Linked DNA regions of Homo sapiens: all the other regions are linked to region 2. The links come from fine-mapping of genetic effects on gene expression. A gene starts in region 2. Each other region holds a variant in brackets. All regions are shown on one strand. Distances are from middle to middle. Region 1 has its middle 28 kb from the start of ZDHHC20. Region 2 holds the start of MICU2 (mitochondrial calcium uptake 2). Region 3 overlaps ZDHHC20 (zDHHC palmitoyltransferase 20). Region 4 overlaps MICU2 (mitochondrial calcium uptake 2).

Evidence for each region. PIP is the estimated chance that this variant, and not a neighbour inherited with it, causes the effect.
Region 1: its variant is fine-mapped to the expression of MICU2 in whole blood (TOPMed, PIP 0.90).
Region 3: its variant is fine-mapped to the expression of MICU2 in CD4 T cells (BLUEPRINT, PIP 0.95).
Region 4: its variant is fine-mapped to the expression of MICU2 in blood mononuclear cells (TOPMed, PIP above 0.99).

The regions. Positions count from the first base shown.
Region 1 is chr13:21,484,333-21,489,832 of GRCh38, reverse strand. No RefSeq gene overlaps it. Among named protein-coding and RNA genes, the nearest start is that of ZDHHC20, 28 kb to the right of the region's middle. The variant A/T (reference allele first, on the strand shown) is at 2,743.
Region 2 is chr13:21,601,231-21,606,230 of GRCh38, reverse strand. It overlaps MICU2 (mitochondrial calcium uptake 2), which reads left to right and starts at 2,061. Exons shown (of 12, transcript NM_152726.3): 1 at 2,061-2,292. The coding sequence starts at 2,083. RefSeq lists enhancers at 1,878-1,947, 1,729-2,347, 2,348-2,967 and a silencer at 2,118-2,327.
Region 3 is chr13:21,428,541-21,434,060 of GRCh38, reverse strand. All of the region lies in intron 1 of ZDHHC20 (zDHHC palmitoyltransferase 20), which reads left to right. Among named protein-coding and RNA genes, the nearest start is that of ZDHHC20, 28 kb to the left of the region's middle. The variant C/T (reference allele first, on the strand shown) is at 2,535.
Region 4 is chr13:21,491,395-21,496,394 of GRCh38, reverse strand. MICU2 (mitochondrial calcium uptake 2) reads left to right here. Exons shown (of 12, transcript NM_152726.3): 10 at 235-343; 11 at 1,077-1,234; 12 at 3,042-3,704. The coding sequence ends at 3,146. Among named protein-coding and RNA genes, the nearest start is that of ZDHHC20, 35 kb to the right of the region's middle. The variant T/G (reference allele first, on the strand shown) is at 2,725.

The sequences.
Region 1 (5,500 bases), 120 kb after region 2:
ATTTTAGTTGTGATGTCATAGCCTTTTTGTAAGGATTGAGATGATGTATGAAATGCACTGGAGTAAACCTTTAGCAGCTTTTAAATATTAATGCTGTTAACTTCTTATTTCAGATCCTCCTTCACAACAGACTTATTTTCTGAAACATAAATCTGATCATGTCACTACGCTTCTGATAATCTTACGACACTAAAATCGCTTAAAAAATAAAATTCAACTCTACATGATCTTGCCCCATCTATCTTTCTCATATCCTAACACTTGCCACCACACACTTTACACTACAACAATACTGAATTACTTCTCATCACCCCGCTTGGCCATGTTCTCACTCTCCAAGTGTTTGCACTTACTAGTGCTTCTGTTGAAGATGCTCCCACCTGCCTAACTTCCAGTGCCATTTCATCTGCAAAGTTTTCCATTTTTCTCCCTGCTTTTCCCTCAAATTCATTTAGGGATACATGCTGTTAGTTCCCTCACACGTTTCTGTCCACATATCTTTCAAGCCTCATTAAAGTATACTGGAATTCTTTTATGTATTTGCCTCTTCCCCTTGGCTATGAGCTCATTGATAGCAACAACATGACTCCTTTAACGCTATCTCCCAGCATCCATCAAAGAGCTAGCACATACTCGCTCAAAAAAATGTTTGACCTATGAATTAGTTAACAAAAAGGAAAGTGGAACAAGAAATAACCCTGGGCCAGGCACGGTGGCTCATGCCCACCGCTAATCCCAGCACTTTGGGAGGCTGAGGCAGGCGGATCACCTGAGGTCAGGAGTTCAAGACCAGCCTGGCCAATATGGCAAAACCCCAACTCTACTAAAAATACAAAAATTTAGCGAGGCATCCTGGCACGCACCTGTAGTCCAAGTTACTCGGAAGGCTGAGACAGGAGAATCACTTGAACCTGGGAGGCAGAGGTTACAGTGGGCCGAGATTGTGCCACTACATTCCAGCCTGAGTGACAGAGGGAGATTCTGTCTCAAAAAAAAAAAAAAAAAAAAAAATCCCCATATGTGCTTTAGCTGTTCTCACATACCAGCTTTTCTGTTACAGGACTGGACAGGAGAGAGTAGATGGCTTAAGGGAGCTTTAAGACAGCTCTGGTTTGGCCTCTGCTTTGGACACAGATAGCAAATATCAAGAGAGACTGGCCAGGGGTTCTGATACGGTTAGAAAGCAGAACAGGTTCTGGGAATGGAAACAAATTGAAATGTCCTCCCAAAGTTTGGAAACAAGGTTACCCTCCAGGTGTTAAATCATAAAAATCAAAGCATAATGTAGAGGCCAGGCATGGTGGCTCATGCCTGTAATCCGAGCACTTTGGGAGGCCGAGGCGGGAGGATCACTTGAAGTCAGGAATTCAAGACCAGCCTGGCTAACATGGTGAAACCCCGCCTCTACTAAAAACATGAGATTAGCCAGGTGTGATGGCAGGCACCTGTAATTCCAGTGACTCAGGAGGCCAAGGCAGGAGAATCGCTTGAAATCAGGAGGCAGAGGTTGCAGTGAGCCAAGATTGCACTCCAGCCTGAGCAACAAAGTGAAACTCTGTCTCAAAAAAAAGGCATAATGTAGGGAATGATGTCAGGGAAGATAGCAGAGCAGGAGGCTCCAGGAATCTGTCCCTTCACCTAAACAACTATTGAACTGGCAGGAATTGTCTTATTTTGGAACATTTCTGACATTTGAGGGAGAGTTTGATGAAGTTGCTAGTAAATTTTGGTGAACTTCAGCCTTTTGTGATGTAGCAGCAACAGCAAAAAGCCTGCCACCCAGCATCAGGAAACTGTCAGGGAAGCAGCCCACATTCCTGGGGCAGCTTCCTGGAACCAGTGTGAGCACAAAAGACCTTATCCTCCAGGAGTGGGGGTCATGTGTTCTGCTAGCTGCTTGCTGATTTTGATAAAGTGATGAGGGGCCAGGCTGGAGGCCAACCATTTTTTAATGCCCACTTCACAAGCTGAAGCAGCTTCCCAGCCACAAGAGATTTAAAGAGACAGGATATCTTCCCTCCTTCTTGAAAGTCAGACATTTAAGGACATTTTTGTCAGGTTACTGGCTAACTGTAGAGATAACAGAAAAGAAACCTCAGTAGCCACACACAACAAGGAAGATACATTGTTTGGAAAAGGCACAAATAGGAATGGGTCCAGCCCACAACAAGCAAAAACAAGCAATCCCTAAGGAGTAGAATTAGATTCCAGAGTTACTACAACATAATGCTCAGAATAACCAGTTCTCAACAAAAAATTATAAAACATGTAAAGCAACAGGAAAGTATGATCCATTCACAGGATATAAAGAATTTCACAGAAACCATACCTAAAGAAGACCAGACTTTGGAATTATTAGTCAAAGATGTTAAATCAATTGTTTTAAATATGTTCAATATGTTTTCTAAAGGAAACCATGAATAAACACTAATAGAAATCAAGAAAACAATGTCTGAACAAAATGAAAGTATAAATAGAAATTATAAAAAGGAGCCAAACAAAATCTGCAATAACTAAAATGAAAAATGCAATAGAGGGATTCAACAGCAAGTTTGAACAAGGAAAAGAGAGGACTGGCAAAATTGAAGATAAGACATTGAAAATTACCCAGTCTAGGGAAAAGAAAGAAAGAGTGAAGAAAAATGAAGACAGCCTGAGGAACCTATGGGACCTCATCAAGCATACCAAATACACATTATAGGAATCCCAGAAGGAGAAGACATAGAGAAAGGAGCAGCAAAA[A/T]ATTTGAAGAAATAATAGCTGACAACTTCCCAAATCTGATTAAAAACATGAATATATACATCTAAGAAGCTCAATGAACTCCAAGCAGGAAAACTTTGAAGAGATACACACTGAGACATATAGTCAAATTATCAACTCCCATAGACAAAAAGATAATTTTGAAAGCATCAGGTAGAAGTGACTCATGCGGCCAGGTGCGGTGGCTCATGCCTGTAATCCCAGCACTTTGGGAGGCTGAGGTGGGCGGATCATGAGGTCAGGAGATTGAGACCATCCTGGCTAACACGGTGAAACCCCATCTCTACTGAAAATACAAAAAATTAGCTGGGCGTGGTGGCGGTCACCTGTAGTCCCAGCTACTCAGGAGGCTGAGGCAGGAGAATGGCCAGAACCTGGAGGCAGAGCTTGCAGTGAGCCAAGATCACACCACTGCAGTCCAGCCTGGGCGACAGAGCAAGACTCCGTGGAAAAAAAAAAAAAAAAAAAAAAGTGACTCATGCATGTACAAGAGACCTTCATTAAGAATGACAGTTTATCTTCCACTAGAAACCATGGAGGCCAAAAGGCACTGGATGACATATTTAAAGTCTTGAAAGAAAAAGACTGTCAACCGAGAACTCTATATACAGCAAAACTATCATTCAAGAATGAAGGAGAAATTAAGATATATCCAGATTTAAAAGACTGAGTCTTATTACCAGTACTGCCCTACAAGAAATGCTAAACGGAGTGCTTCAGACTGAAATGAAAAGACAATAGACAGTAATTCAAAGACAGAAGAAAAAAAAATACTACTAAAGGTAACTTCATAAGTATATATAAAAGCCACTGGGCCACAAATATGTGGAAATTAACAACCCACTCAAACAACCAATGCCTCAAAGAAAAGGGAAATGAGAACATACGTTGAGACAAATAAAAATGAAAACACAACAGCAAAACTATGAGATGCAGTGAAAGCAGTGCTAAAGAGGGAAATTTTTTTTTTTGGGGGGGATGAAGTCTTGCTCTTGTCCCCCAGGCTGGAGTGTAATGGCACGATATCGGCTCACTGCAACCTCTGCCTCCCGGGTTCAAGCAATTCTCCTGCCTCAGCCTCCTAAGTAGCTGGGATTACAGGCGCCTGCCACCATCCTGGCTAATTTTTGTATTATTAGTAGAGATAGGGTTTCACCATGTTGGCCAGGCTGGTCTCAAACTCCTGACCTCAGGTGATCCGCCCACCTTGGCCTCAAGTGCTGGGATTACAGGCATGAGCCATCGCGTCCAGCCTTAAGACAGAAATTAATAGCTATAAATGTTTACATTTAAAAAGAACAATAATCTCAAATCAACAACTTTACACCTTAAGGAACCAGAAAAAGAACAAATGAAATTCAAAGATGGAAGGAAATAAAGAAAACCTAAACTGTGATTTAATGTATTGACAGAGGCTCCTTACGGACAAGTTTGAGAGTTAAAAACTCCAGGCTGGGTGTGGTGGCTCACGCCTGTAATCCCAGAACTTTGGGAGGCCAAGGTGGATGGATCACCTGAGGTGGGGAGTTCGAGACCAGCCTGACCAACATGGAGAAACCCCGTCTCTACTAAAAGTACAAAATTAGCCGAGCATGGTGGCACATGCCTATAATTCCAGCTACATGGGAGGCTGAGGCAGGAGAATAGCTTGAACCTGGGAGGTGGAGGTTGCAGTTAGTTGGTTGAGATCATGCCATTGCACTCCAGCCTGCGCAACCAGAGCAACACTCTGTCTCAAAAAAAAAAAAAAAAAAAAAAAAAAACCTCCAGAGGGCCCTGACATGGTGGCTCATGCCTGTAATCCCAGCACTTTGGGAGGCCAAAGCGGGAGGATCACTTGAGGTCAAGAGTTCAAGACCAGCCTGACCAACATGGGGAAACACCCCGTCTCTACTAAAAATACAAAAATTAGCCAGGCGTGATGGGTTATGCCTGTAATCCCAGCTACTCAGGAGGCTGAGGCAGGAAAATCACTTGAACCCGGGAGGTGGAGGTTGCAGTGAGCTGAGATTGCACTACTGCACTCCAGCCTGGGTGACAGAGTGAGTCTCTGTCAAAAAAAAAAGAAAGAAAAGAAAGAAAAGAAAAGAAAGAGAAAGACAAAGAAAGAGAAAGAAAGAAGACAAAGAGAAAGAGACAGACAGAAAGAGAAAGAAAGAAGACAAAGAAAGAGAAAGAGAGAGACAGAGAGACAGAAAGAGAAAGAAAGAAAAGAGAAAATGCTCTTGTATAAAGTACCTGCATACCCTTGAAGTAGTATAGTGTTATTTCAAAGAGGACATGGACCCCCATCTCTACAAAAAATTAAAAATAAAATAAATTAGCCGGGCATAGCGATGCATACCTACAGCCCTAGTTACTCAAGAGGCTGAGGCAGGAGGATCGCTGGAGCCCAGGAGTTTGAGGCTGCAGTGAGCTGTGATTGCACTACTGCACTCTAGCCTGGGTGGCAGAGACCCTGTCCCCCCCCATCCCACCCCACCTCCCCCAAAAAAAAGAAGGAAAGAAAGAAGACATGGGTTAGTTATAAACATATACTGCAAACTCAAGGACAACCACCAAAAAAGTAAATAACTTCTTTAAGTTATGTTCAAAGGCTCCCATAACAATAAAATACAAACCTTCACCAAGGTCTCAAGGTTCTTCCTGCCCCTGCCCCTGACACTCCCAACCTCACCTTCTCTCCTTCCCACTCTTGCTCAACCACTATGGCCATCTTGTTTTCCCTGGAACCCCTCAA
Region 2 (5,000 bases):
AAGATTTTTGGCAAAATAAAAAGAAGCTTTTGTTTTGAAAATAAAGTACCCCAAAGGAATAATATACTTCTGTATTTTGGATGGCCAAAGCATAGAAATATGAACCCCTGAGTTTCATTTGTGCCATTTATTTATTCACTTATTTACTCACTCATTGAATGTCTATTACGTGCTGGGCATTGTGCTAGGTGCTAGAGAAACAGGGAAAAGGAAGACATCTCACCCACAAGGATGTCAAATTGTGGGAGAAAGACAATGTTCTTAAATATGCTACATGTTTTAATGGGAATCTAAACTTATCTTGGGCTTAAGGCAATACTGAGTAATAGATGCCAGGTTTCATTAAATACCTAGAGGAACTGTGTGAGGCAGTTAGAAGTATACACGTAAAGACTGTGGTTTCTGGAAATCAAGAATAAACTACAAGGTAAGACATCCAGGGTGTCCAAAATATCCTGGAAGTCCTATTATCACCAGGAAACAAGCTAGATGTCAATAGTCCAGAAAAGCAGGACATGTGCCAAAGCTACCAGAGTTAGCAGAGGTGAAAAACAGTCCAGAGGTTGACAAAGTCAGGCTAGATACAAAAAAGCAGGAAAATCTCAGGTTAAGATGGGCTAGTGATCTGGAATCATGGACATTCAGTCAAGCTCATTTGTGTTCACAGGGCAGAAGTAAACCAAACCTTGACCACAGTAAACGCACATCTGTCATGAGCCTACCATGTGCCAGGCATTTGGCTAGTCACTTTATATAAAATATCTCATTTAGCTTCCCCACCCCAAACTGTAAGAGGGTTGTTCACAGATGAAAAAATTGAGACTCAAAGAGATTAAATACCTTACCCCAAATAGCAGTGATCATCTACCAAATCGTGAGTTATTTACAAATGAGAAAATGGAGACTCAGAGAGATTAAATAATTTGCCCCAAACCACAGTGATCATCCTGGTAGAGCTAAGATTCAAACCTTGAGGTCTGGCTCACAAGTCGGTGAAGTGAGGCTCATCTCTCTACTTCCTACCTGGGAAGGCACACTGAAAAGTAAGTCCAGAAGCTGACGGAAAAGTGAGGAACCTCTGACTGCAGATTAATTTAGACAAGCGGGCTAAGAGAAAGGGAGCAAGGATTAAGGGCAGATAATAACAAAGGGATCCACGGAACTTCCACTGAATGATCAAATTAGATTTCGTGTGACAGGTTTTTGTTTTTGTTTCTTGAAGTTTTGTTTTGTGCAAAACTTCAAGACAGCAGTGATTATGTGATTAGGAGTCTTGGCCCCTTTGATGTTGGCTCCGTTACTGCATGCCCAACTAAAGCTTCTAATAGCTGGGGACATTTCAGAGGCTGAACAAAGAGTTTATTAAAAAGAGTTACTCAGGAAAAGTGAAGACCAAAGAATGGAGGATTGGAGGCTGTTAAATAAAACCAAGTAGTCTGCCTCAGCTACATCACTTATCACCAATGCAACAGCCAGGACTGGAGGTATCGTTCTAAATCTGCACTGGGGAAAACCTCTGGGTCCCTGATGATAGAGACATGGGGCTGGTGTGCTGCTGTCTCTGACTTTTAGTTCTAGGTAGGATAAGAGCTACTATCAAACCTTTTGTTGAAACTGAATTTAAATTCATTATAAGCAAATAGTGAGGGACTGAAATAAACAGAATGCCTTGTCTGAGAGTTGTTTTAGCAGAAATGAAAGAACAGTCAAGACTATAAGCATAGGAAGACATGAACAACACAGATGCAGAAGAGACTATTTCAAAAAACGTTTCACAGTTTTACAAGGTGAAAAAATGAAAAGGAGAAACCTGCCCACACAACCGAGGGCACTATCTTGTTTTGGACTAGGAAGTCATATTATACTGTCTTGATACTCTTCCTGTCATCCCATCCCCACAGCCTTAGAAGGCAGCCCCGGAACCGAAGGCCACCTCTTGCGGCTGCGAGCGTCGCCTCAGCAACCGCACCCACGGCGCAGGCCCGGTAGGCGGGGCGGAAGCCTGTCGGATGTCGCGAGAGTTCCCAAGCGGTAGGCGGCGGCGCCGGGAGAGAAGCGCCGCCTAGCTGCGCTTCCGCAAAGATGGCGGCGGCTGCGGGTAGCTGCGCGCGGGTGGCGGCCTGGGGCGGAAAACTGCGACGGGGGCTCGCTGTCAGCCGACAGGCTGTGCGGAGTCCCGGCCCCTTGGCAGCGGCAGTGGCCGGCGCGGCCCTGGCAGGAGCAGGAGCGGCCTGGCACCACAGCCGCGTCAGTGTTGCGGCGCGGGATGGCAGTTTTACAGTCTCCGCACAGGTACAGGACTAACTCCTTCTGCTAGCCCCAGTCAAGCTCCTCCCTCCCCTGACGCCCTTAGGCGGGGAGTGGTTTGGCTCTGGGCGGCTCTCCCGGAGCCGTGGGTGGAGGTGCCGCTGCGGATCGGAGCGCCCTGCGACTGGTGGGACTCGCTCCTTCCTGGACCGGCCCCCGGCCTGAGTCCCCGAGGGCCTTCGAGGCTGGTGACCGGAGATTCTGCCTCCCTTGGGAGAACCCCGCGGACGCTGAACACCACGGCCCACAAAACTGGCCGCACTAATTTAGTGGTGATGAGTGTGGGCGTGTCTTAATTCGAGGCTCCTAATTCAGAATCTCACTGCGCCTCGCCTCTTGCTACCTCTCTGGTCAGTGAAGTGGCATTCACATCCGCAGGTGGTTTGCGTCCAGTTACCCCTGTGGGATATACCTTTGTTAAGCTTTGCAACTAAGTTTTACGATCTTTTCTTTGTATAGCATGATGAAGTTCTGTCGATTGCTTTTTTAAGTCACGAATGTGTCAGCCACAAAAATTAACCAGTTGATTTCCAGATTTTATTATCAACTTTAAGGAACATTATTGCATGATTATAAACCTTAATATCTTAGTGGACCATAAGTTCTAAGCAAAAATTGCTCCTAAAACCTCCATCTATTAAAGACAAGAGTCCGCCGGGCGCGGTGGCACACGCCTTTAATCCCAGGGCTTTGGGAGGCCGAGGCGGGTGGATCTCCTGAGGTCAGGAGTTCGAGACCAGCCTGGCCAACATGGTGAAGCCGCTCCCCACCCCAGCCCCGCCCCCCCGGTCTCTACTAAAAAATATAAACAATTAGCTGGGTGTGGTGGCGGGAGGCTGAAGTAGGAGAACCGCTTGAATCCGGGAGGCGGAGGTTGCAGTGAGCCAAGATCGAGCCATTGCACTCCAGCCTGAGCTACAAGAGCGAAACTCCGTCTCAAAAAAAAAAAAAAAAGATTCAAGTTCCCTATTTCAGGATAAATGATGTTGTAACGCATTTGAAAATTTGAATGAGTAGTGCTTTAAAATTTTTGTAGACTTAGTAAGTTTTTACATATGAGCTTTTTTGAAAATTGAAAGTAGTAGTTTATTATTTTCTTTTTTAGATTTACATTATGCCTTTCTAGCGAAAAACTCAAGGAACATTCAGATACAACAAAAAAGAGAGGAAAGAAGGCCTTGTGAGTTAAAATTAAGTATTGGCAACTGATATTCCTTATTTGTATTAACATACATTATAATTATATTGTAAACATATATAATGGAAAGATCTATTATCTAGTGTTTTTATAGCATTTTTGTGAATCTTGTGCCAAGGAGTTCAGTGTATTCATCATTAGTTTCTCTCCCCTAGATTCATCCTGGTTTTTTTGTTTGTTTTTTGTTTTTGTTTTTGTTTTTTTTGAGAGGAGTCTCGCTCTGTCGCCCAGGCCGGACTGCAGTGGCGCTATCTCGGCTTACTGCAAGCTCCGCCTCCCGGGTTCACGCCATTCTCCTGCCTCAGCCTCCCGAGTAGCTGGGACTACAGGCGCCCGCCATCGCGCCCGGCTAATTTTTTGTGTTTTTAGTAGAGACGGGGTTTCACCGTATTAGCCAGGATGGTCTCGATCTCCTGACCTCGTGATCCGCCCGCCTTGGCCTCCCTAAGTGCTGGAATTACAGGCGTGAGCCACTGCGCCCGGCCGATTCATCCTGTTTTTAAGACCCTTAGGTTAATCTTCTCCGGAGTATCACTTTAACCACACAGTGTACCCTTCTTCAGAAACCCTTCTTCAGTGTCTCATTTTGCCAAGAGTAAAATGCACTTTTTTTTTGTTGTTGAGATGGAGTCTCTGTCACCCAGGCTGGAGTGCAGTGGCGTGATCCCGGCTCACTACAACCTCTTAACTCCCCGGTTCAAGTAATTCTCCTACCTCAGCCTCCCAAGTAGCTAGGATTACAGGCATACGCCACCACGTCCAGCTAATTTTTTTTTGTATTGTTAGTAGAGCCGGGGTTTCACCATGTTGGCCAGGATGGTCTCGATCTCCTGACCTCGTGATCCGCCTGCCTTGGCCTCCCAGAGTGCTGGGATTACTGGCGTGAGCCACAGCGCCCGGCCAAAATGCACATTTTAAAACTTTGTCTTTCAGAGCCTTTTATAGTCACACTCTGACCTGACACTACTCAGGCACCTTCCCACTAAAGTGATTCACTCACTATCCCTAGAACAAGACTTAAATACCGCTCACCCGCCAGCTGCAATTTGTAGACTCTTGATTTCACTTATCCATCTAATTGTTTTTTTTTTTTCTGGCCCACTTCTAATCTTTCTCCTTTGAAATCCCTGACTTGATTCTAAAAGCTTCACACTAGTGTAGTTATTTTGGATTCTCTTCCCAACTCTCAGCTCTCCTTCCCTGCAGCTTTGTAAGTTTAATCTTAGCTAAAGTAATACAGAAACCATTTTATTATCAATCGTTTTATAAGGTCTGTTGGCATAGCATTTGCCTGATCTGCTATTGGACCGAGACAGTGGTTCTCATCCTTTTGCCACCACGGTGGACATTCCTTTCAGCATCAGTGGCTGAATACAGGAAGGATTGAGAGGACCTATAGGTTGAAAACTTTGCCTTCGCCTCAGTGATTTTGATACATTTCCCTAAGAAGTGGGCCTACTACCACTACTTTAGGGACAGGTGTGCATAGTTGAGC
Region 3 (5,520 bases), 170 kb after region 2:
TTACCAGACTAGTCATTTATGTAGAAAATCCCAAAGAAACTGCAAACAAGCTACTAGAACCGAAAAGTGAATTGAGCCAGCATACAAGGTCAATAAAAAAACTAAAACATATTTCTAAATACTATTCTATAGCAATGAGTAATTAAAATTGGAATTTTTAGAAATGCTGTTTATAATAGCATCAAAAACATGAAATATTTTAGGGATAAGTCTAATAAAATATGTGCAAGATTCTGTGTGATAGAGAAAATCTAAAATGGAGAGCTACGCCATGGTCATGGGCTGTAAGACAATATTTCAAAGACATTACTTCTCCCCAAGTTGATCTGTAAGTTCAGCCAGTCAAAATCCAGGCATCAGCCAGCACTGGATCTCCCAGAACAAACAAACAAAAAACAAAACCAGGCAGATTTTTGTTTGTGAATTCCCGCCTCCCACCCCCACCAGATGGAGTCTTGCTCTGTCACCCAGGCTGGAGTGCAGTGGAGTGATCTCGGCTCACTGCAAGCTCCGCCTTCTGGGTTCACGCCATTCTCCTACCTCACCCTCCTGAGTAGCTGGGACTACAGGCACCCGCCACCACGCCCGGCTAATTTTTTGTATTTTTAGTAGAGATGGAGTTTTACTGTGTTAGCCAGGATGGTCTCGATCTCCTGACCTCATGATCCGCCCGCCTCAGCCTCCCAAAGTGCTGGGATTACAGGCATGAGCCACCATGCCTGGCCTTGTTTGAGTATTTTTTTAAGGAAATCAATAAGATGAGTTTAAAATTTACATGGGCCAGACACAATGGCATGCAAGCTGTCTAGCTACTCAGGAGGCCTATAGTCCTAGCTACTTGGGAGGCTGAGACAGACAGACTGCTTGAGCCCAGGAGTTTGAGACAAGCCTGGGCAATACAGCAAAATCCTGTCTCTAAAAAAGGTAAAAATAAGTAAGTATTTATATGGAAATGCAAACCTAAAATAGCCAAAATACTTTTGAAAAATAATAAGTTGGAGGACCCATACTATCTGATTTCAAGATTTACTGAAAGCTATATGTAATCAAGACTGTAGTATCTGAGTAAGAATGGACATATAGACCAGTGGAACAAAATAGAGTTCAGAAATAAACCCTTACACGTATAGTCAGTTGATTCCCATAAGAAAATTCCAGGTTAATTTAATGAAGAACAAATAGTTATTTCAACTAACACTGTAAGAACTATTCACCATTCATATGTAAAAAAATTAACCTCAACCTTTACCTGTACCATATACAAAGTATCAACTTTTTAAAATGGATTACATGGGGGGGCATGGTGGGTCACACCTGTAATCCCAGCACTTTGGGAGGCCATGGTAGGCGGATCAGTTGAGGTCAGGAGTTCAAGACAAGCCTGGCCAACATGGTGAAACCCTATCTTTATTAAAAATACAAAAAAGTTGTCCAGGAGAGATGTCTCATGCCTGTAATCCCAGCACTTTGGGAGGCCGAGGCAGGTGGATCACGAGGTCAGGAGATCCAGACCACCTTGGCTAACATGGTGAAACCCCATCTCTACTAAAAAACACAAAAAAAATTAGTCAGGCATGGTGGTGGGCGCCTGCAGTCCCAGCTACTCAGGAGGCTGAGGCAGGAGAATGGTGTGAACCCAGGAGGCAGAGCTTGTAGTGAGCCGAGATCACGCCACTGCACACCAGCCTGGGCTACAGAGCGAGACTCTGTCTCAAAAAAAAAAAAAAAATTAGTGGGACACTGTGGTGCATGCCTTTAGTCCCAGCTACTTGGGAGGCTGAGGCAGGAAAATGGCTTGAACCAGGAAGCGGAGGTTTTAGTGAGCTGAAATCGCACCACTGCACTCCAGCCTGGGCGACAGAGCGAGATTCTGTCTGAAAAATAATAAAATAAAATATGAAATAAAATGAGAGCAAGACTCTGTCTCAAAAATAATAAAAAATATGAAATGATATAAAATGAAAATGAAATATATTACAGACCTAAATATAAAACCTATAAAACTTCCAGAAGAAAACATATGAGAAACTGTGACTTTCATAGGTTGGCAAAGATTTCCCAGGCATGAATGATAAAAGAAAAAAATTGATAAATTAAATTAAGACTTCATCAAAATTAAGAGTTTGTGCTCTTCAAAAGACACTGTTAAAAATATAAAGAGGCAAGTTATGGCCTAGGAGAAAATATTGGCACACACATATCAAGATTTGTATCCAGAATATATGAAGAACTCATGACTCAATAAGCAATACAGTTAAAAGAGGGGCACCATTGAACATATAACTTCACAAATAAGGGATAGTGATTGTTAAACACATGAAAAGATGCTGTAGTTATTAGAAAAACACAAAAGTGAAATGAAGATACCACTGCATATTTTTTAGAACAGCTAAATTTTAAAAACTGTCAATTCTAAGTATTGGTGAGGATGTGGAGCAACTATAACTCTGATCCATTGTAAGTGGAAGTGCCAAACACTTTGTGCCAAATACAGCCACTTTGAAAACAGTTTGGCTGTTACTGGTAAAGTTAAG[C/T]ACATATTTAACATTAGACCCAGCAATCCCATTTTTAGATATTAAGTAATGAAAATTGATATTGTTTGGCTGTGTCCCCATCCATATCTCATCTTCAGTTGTACTCCTGTAATTTCCCCTGTGTTGTGGGAGGGACCCAGTGGGATATAATTTGAATCATGGGGGTGGTTTCCCCCATACTGTTCTCGTGGTAGTGAATGAGTCTCAAGAGAGATCTGATGGTTTTATCAGGGGTTTCTGCTTTTGCATCCTCATTTTCTCTTGCCTCCACTGTGTAAAAAGTGCCTTTTTGCCTCCAGCCATAATTCTGAGGCCTCCCCAGCCATGTGGAACTGTGAGTCCAATTAAACCTCTTTTTCTTCCTAGTCTTGGGTATGTCTTTATCACCAGCGTGAAAATGGACTAATACAAAAATATTATGTCCACCCAAAGGCTTGGTGAATACACGAGTAATCATAATAGACAAAAAGGTGAAATCACTCAAATGCCTATGAACTGATTAATGGATAAAGTTGTCATACCTCCATATAACAGAATGCTATTCGGCAGTAAAAGGACAAGCAGGGACTTCCAGTTCTGAGACAAGATGAAATAGAGACTTCTTCCTTTTCTTAGTAAGTACAGCTAAAATCCATGGAAAGTGTGCAGAAAACAAACCTGAGGAGACTCTGAAAGGTATCAAGAAGAAGCCAGATCAGCTAGGGACCTTGCGACCTGAGGAATAACATGGTGGTGTGTTCCCTAGATTTTTTTTTTCTTCATATATGTGCTAGAGAAGCTGTCAACCTGGAAACACCAATGAATACAGACCAAAACAAACCCTAGAAAAGACCAGTTTTATTAGTCAAGCCAGGAAAGGGACAACCTAGTAAGACAGAAAACTTGTAGACAATAACTGCCCTACTCTAGCCAAAAACAATAGACAAACTGTGCTCCATCCCCCACTCTCACCAGCAAAGACTGAGTATTGAGCTTAAGACCTCTCCTGCTTGCCCAGCTGTAACAAGACCCCCCTCCTGTGTCTCTTCCCCAGTATTCCTGCTGGGATAGTATCAGAAAAGGTGAAGCCCTAGTCAGGAGCCTAGATTTTCATTCCCACTGGGCAGTAATGATGTGTCCCTTCCATCCCCCCACCCCAAACAGTAACAAGTTCCCTCTCATGGTGTCAATGGAGGCTATCTGGGAAGCACTAAGGAGGCACCTCTACCCTTCCCAGCCAAGATATGTGTGCAGAAGCCTAGCAGGGAGCTGGGACTTGGACTCCCACCTGATGGCAACAAGGTGGTGCTCCCACATCTCTCACTGCACGGAGTCAGACGAGGCCTGCAAAAACAAATTTAAATAAGATCTAGAGTCTCAGCATAATACTAAAACATTTCAGGATACAATTGAAAACCATCCATCCTACCAAGAACCAGGAAAACTAAATGAGAAAAGAGAATAGATACTAAAACCAAAAAGACACAGATGTTGGAATTACTTGACAAGGACTTTAATGCAGCTATCTTTAAAGTGATTCAATTTGCTATTGAATTATGAAAAAATAGAATTCTCAACAAAGAAATAGAAGATGTAAAGAACCAGATGGAGATTTTTAAACTGAAAATACAATAGCCAAAATTTTAAAAAGTCAACTGAACAGCAGAATGGAGAGGGCAGAGAAAAAAAGTGAAGTGAATGAACTTGAAGATAAAACATTAGAAATTACCCAATCTGAACAAAAGAGAGAAAATATACTGAAAAATAAAAATGAACAAATCATCAGGGACTTGTGGGACTATTTTTAAAAGTTCTAATATTTGTACCATCAGAGTCCCAGGGGAGAAGAAAGACGATATGGTTGAAAAGGTATTCAAAGAAATGATAGCTTAAAATTTTCAAACTTGGCGAAGGACATATTCAAGAAGAACTTAAGAAGTTCAGCAAACTCTGAACAGGAAAATCCCAAAGAAATCCACTCCAACATACATTATAACCAAATTTCTGACCACTAAATATAAAATCTTGAAAACAGTGAGGACACTTTACCTATAGGGGAAAAACAGAATAACAGCAGATTTGTCATCAGAAACCGTGGAATTTAGAAGGAAGTAGTACATATTTAAAGTACTGAATGAAAAGAACTGTCAACCCAGAATTCTATATCCAGCATATAACTGGCCCATCAAGGTTGAAAGTTGACAGTTGTACATTCAGATAGCACATCCTCACATTATAAGAATTCAAAGCAAAAACAGGATAAAGGAAATAATAGAGCTTCTTTCTCACGTGCTTCTCACTTGTTAAGGAGGGCAAAAAAATTTTTTCCCAGTGACAGTTTTTCCCTCCCTCAAGATGTATCCATTTGCAAGAACTGGATCCCATAGCCATAGTAGATACAAGTATACTGATAAAGTGAGTATCTGATATTTTCAGGCTCAATAAGTGGGAGACAGGCAAGAAAAGGGGGCAATGAAGTGAAGAATAGGACATAGCCAGCCCTCATGTTCACAAAGAACCATAAATTAATGTTGTCTCTAAATGAGGTTAGTGTCATTGACAAGATTGAAAAATGACATTTCTTACATAAAAAAATGTATAAACATTTAGTGTGCCTAATAATTTTTGTTGTTGTTGGGTTTTTTTGTTGTTGTTTTGTTCTTTTGTTTTGTTTTATTTTGTTTTGTTTTTGAGGCAGAGTGTCACTCTTTCACCCAGGCTGGAGTGCAGTGGTGTGATCTTGCCTCACTGCAACCGCCTCCCAGGTTCAGGCGATTCTCCTGCCTCATCCTCCTGAGTAGCTGGGACTACAGGCGCACGCCACCATGCCCAGCTAATTTTTTGTATTTTTAGTAGAGATGGGGTTTCACCATCTTGGCCAGGCTGGTCTTGAACTCCTGACCTCGTGATCCACCTGCCTCAGCCTCCCAAAGTGCTGAGATTACGGGCATGAGCCACCACGCCCAGTCCTAATAGTTTTTATAAGCTTGGTTTTGTCATCAAAAGA
Region 4 (5,000 bases), 110 kb after region 2:
AGGGCCAGTTTCTGGTGAGGCCTCTTGCCCAGCCTGCACACAGCACCTTCTCACTGTGCCCTTTGTGTGGCCATTTCTGTGTGCACACAGAGAGAAAGGGACAGAGAAAGCTCTGTTGTCTCTTCCTCTTAGAATGATACTAGTCTCTACGGTAGAAAAGAAAGTTCATAGTTAACATTTATAAGATTATTTAATGTACTTACAAAATTGTAATAAAAACTCTTACTTTATTAGAGCATTAGTTTGGATGAATTCAAGTCATTTTGCCATTTTACAACCCACTTGGAAGACTTTGCTATTGCCATGCAGATGTTCAGTTTAGCTCATCGTCCTGTCAGACTAGGTAAGTTATATGAAAAACCATTTAATTTTTATCATCTATAAACAGTTTTACTATATTCTTCAACTAAATGCTACCAATCAAGGAACAAATTATAAGTAAAAATAGTTGATTGACCTTTTAATTCAGTGTGGTTATTCTAGATTTAGAATACCAGTACTCCAGTTTAATGGTTACTTTCTATACTTTTATTTTCTCATTCTCCTAAAAAGAAGGAAGAAGGCCGGGCATGGTGGCTCATGCCTGTAATCCCAGCACTTTGGGAGTCCAAGGTGGGCGGATCACAAAGTCAGGAGTTCAAGACCAGCCTGGCCAACATGGTGAAACCCCATCTCTACTAAAAATACAAAAACTAGCTGGGCGTGGTGGCAGGCGCCTGTAATCCCAGCTATTCAGGAGGCCGAGGCAAGAGAATCGCTTGAACCCGGGAGACGGAGGTTGTAGTGAGTCAAGATCGTGCCATTGCACTCCAGCCTGGGCGACGAGCAAGATTCATCTCAAATATATGTTTAGAGCATTGATTAAATTACAATAGCTCATTTGTCTTGCAGTGACTCTCATGACATTCGTCGGCTTATGGTTTGAATATTTTCTTCATGGGTATTTTTGTTTTTGTTTTACTTCCCAAATAATAAAAATTTGGATTTGCTTTTACTTCTCAAATAATGAAAATTTAGATTAATTTCACTTAGACTATTTCACATAGTTGATAAGTTGTTTTATGTTTGTTTTTTAGCGGAGTTTAAGAGAGCTGTGAAAGTAGCAACAGGACAAGAACTCTCAAACAATATTTTGGACACTGTCTTTAAGATCTTTGATTTGGATGGTGATGAATGTCTTAGTCATGAAGAGTTTCTTGGGGTGTTAAAAAACAGAATGCATCGAGGTTTATGGGTAACAGATTTTTTTTATATAATACATGTTTACATTGTCATTAACTGATATTAAACCTAGAATTTGGGCAATTGTACAGTCTTTAAATGGAGTTTTCATCACTTATAAAAAGACTATAAGCTGTAATTGAAATACAGAAATATATTTTATATATGAGATTAAACATCTTTGCTTTTTAAAAAATAATGTGAATCTAATAAGAAATCACTATTTAAAGTGACTGTGAGCTACGATCGCACCACTGCACTCTAGACTGTGCAACAGAGCAAGCCCTTGTCTCCAAAAAAAAATAATTTTTTAAAAAAGAAATTACTATTCAGAAATGTAGCCTAGCTGGACATGGTGGCTCACATCTGTAATCCCAGCACATTGTGGGAGGCCGAGCCGGGTGGATCACTTGAGGCCAGGAGTTTGAGACCAGCGTGGATAACATCATGAGACTCTGTTTCTACAAAAAAAGGGAAAAAAAATCATAGCCTAGGATTTGACTAACTACATGTAATTAGATATATGTAAATTCAAATCCCACCTCTACTGTTTATTAACTGCTTAATCTTGCAAAGCCACTTAATTTTTTTTAGTCTCAGATTCTTGACCCATACCATGAGGAAACTAATCTACCAGAAAGCATTATTGTTAGAATTTGATGTAAAATACTTAGTATAGTGGCTGAGATTATGAAGTAAATTTCACTATTAGCATTATTCACTCAAAGTCACATATGAGTCTATACTTGTGGGACAAATCAAATTCAGATTTTTGTTCAGATTAGAATGTGCTAGAAGCACTCTCAGAAAAGAAGTCTGCCAGGGGAAGACTAGGGTCCAAAGAGAATCTACATGGTTGGTAGGTAGGCAAGAAAAAAGGAAGGAGAGAGAGAGAGAATATGGTACTATTCATGAAAATAAAGCTATTTACAACTTAGAAAAGCAATTCCATTTCCTGCAACAAACATAACTTAGGGAAAAATAAATATTATTTTCATTAGCAAACATATTAATATTTTATAAACTTTGCAGTTATCCAACACCCATAAATATATTCCGGGAAATTAAGCCAGTCTTTTCAGTTCACAATTGAGTGTACCTGGGAGTCTCCTTGCCCTTTCTCAGAAGACATTAAAAAGAAAAGCTGTAAATCAGTCATAAGAAAAAGAACATATATAATCTGGAGTAGAATTTTGCTTCCACTTGGCTAATTTTCATCAGTGCTATGCTCCTGTGGTCCCCCGGATCCAAATATTTCCTAACCTTTACCTTTTCATTTTGTTGAGAGTAGTAGTAATCCACATGTATTTTTAGCTAACAAAACACGTCCATGAATTAGATTATTTCTTGAAGCTTTTCATCAAATACTTTGTGGCCTTTTTTTTTTTTAATTTTAGCCAATGTTAAATCAAAGCTTTAGGCTTATAATTGTATTCTACATAGCTAAACAAAGTTCACCAGAAAAAAAGGGAAAGATTATAAAACATTATAAAAGGAAAACAT[T/G]ATAAAGTAATTAAATTTTAAAGCCAGTATGTGAAAGAAGAGATGGCCCAAAGTCTTCATTACCCTCTTAGAGAAGAAACTCCATTAATGTGTGCTCAGTCTGGTTCCACTCCCTAGTAACCTTAAGCATAGTTACATTCACTTTTTGTCTTTTACCCCCATTTTCAGTTCTGTTGTGATCATCTTTTACAACATAATTCACCCTCAACTATTTTTGGAGGAGTGTGGGAAGGAAATAAACAGTAACGTAAAGTATATATGAAATCATGTTTAACCTTGAAGACAATGACCCCTTGATTTTTACTTTCGGTTAACAGGTACCACAACATCAGAGTATACAAGAATACTGGAAGTGTGTGAAGAAAGAAAGCATTAAAGGAGTAAAAGAAGTCTGGAAACAAGCTGGAAAAGGTCTTTTTTAATAAAAGATATAATAGTATGGCAATTATATTGTTCCAAATGTCAAAATTTGTGATTTTTTAGAAGTACTTGCTATTTATCTTCTTAAGTCTTCATTGATATTCTGTGTGAAATAAGCATGTCTTGTACTTGCTTTCTGATTCATAATTTTATTAAAGAACTTAGTAGAAAGAAAAGTAAGTATAAAAATAGATATTGGATTCTGTCAGAAGGCCTAGATTTGAAATAATGTTTTGTACTTCGGTAAGATGGAAAACTTAGTGATTCACTGATTTCTTAGACACTCTAATATGATATGCTTTCTGGAAGGATAAAACAAATACATATGGGAAAAAGTACTTGAGACCAAGGCCAGCATCAATTCCAGACATCTTCATGTTCCTAATAGGCTAAATGAAGTTAAAAACTTATTTCAGATTTTTCTCATCTGTACCTTATATCTCATAAATTTATTGCATATTTTATGTCAGTAGCTTAGCTGTTTATTGTCTTTAAAATAACATGTAAACTTCAATGTTCTATCTGGAAGCAGAATAAAATATTTACATAGATACAAAAAATACTGAGGTGCTTTTTATTTTACATGTGTTTTTAAAACTACTTTAAAAAAAATTGTAAATACTCTCATCCCTTGCCAGCCTCATTAGTTCTTAAAACCTGGTGTAGCTGGGAGAAATTTTGACCCCAAGGTCAGGGGCTCATGGGATATATTAGGTTGTGGGAAACAAATGTTGCCAGAAGGTAATTGGCATTAAACTGAATATCAAATGGCATTTTTTAAAACCTGGTAAATAAAAATTATAAAAAACTTGTGTCTCAGACACACAATTTAGAAAATTGCAAATATATAAAACCAGTTCCATTCTCTAGAGAACTGGCTGATCCCAAGGCCGTGACAGGGAAAGTCCAAGATAAGCCTAGAATATATTGTGCCTAAAAGTAAAGAAGGGCTCACAAAATGGTGAAGAGTCAGAAGGACAAAGCCAGCTTGAAGGGGCTGCCCCTGTCAAATCTGGTTCAGTTTGAGGGTCAGAATAATTAATGTCCGTAATAGATTATAGCCTATTGAATGAAATAAGAATTCATGAGTTTACACCAAAAATTAATGAGGCCAGAGAAACCTCTCCCTTATTGTTGAAGGATAATGCCTTGAAATATGTTAATCCACTAAATTGAAAAACTCTCCCTCACAGTTTAATGATTGAAATCGACAAGAGGCAAAAGCTTTTGTCCATTTATTACAAAAAATATTTTGCTCCTGATTCAAAAACAAATTTGCTCTAATGAATTGTTTTATAAATAATTGCTTATAAAATAATTTTTTCTCTCTCTTATAAAACCAAAAGATAGGCAATGCAAGAAAGTATAAGTATGAATGAATGAATCCTCCACCATTTTCTCTGTCAACCACAAAAATGCTGACTCCTCACCTGTCTTTCCAGATGCCCTTATGGGTCAAGATTAGGGGCACAAAAATCCAAAAATTAAGATGGTTTCTCATGCCTTCACAGGCTTCACTTTTTCAGCCTCACCTGGCACTGATTTGTCTGCCCCACTTTCCACAGCATTCCATGAATACTGTTTTGTGCTCCAGCGACATAAAGCTCCTGGCCTTTCCTCATGTACACCATGTGCGTTTCACATACCCCTACCCCTAAGCTTGTTACACATGCCATTTCCTTCTGACAGCGATGCCTTTCCCTCGCTATCTTTTTTTTTTTTTTTTTTTTTTTTTGAGACGGAGTCTCACTCTGTTGCCCAGGCTGGAGTGCAGTGGCACGATCTCGGCTCACTGCAAGCTCTGCCTCCTGGGTTCATGCCATTCTCCTGCCTCAGCCTCCTGAGTAGCTGGGACT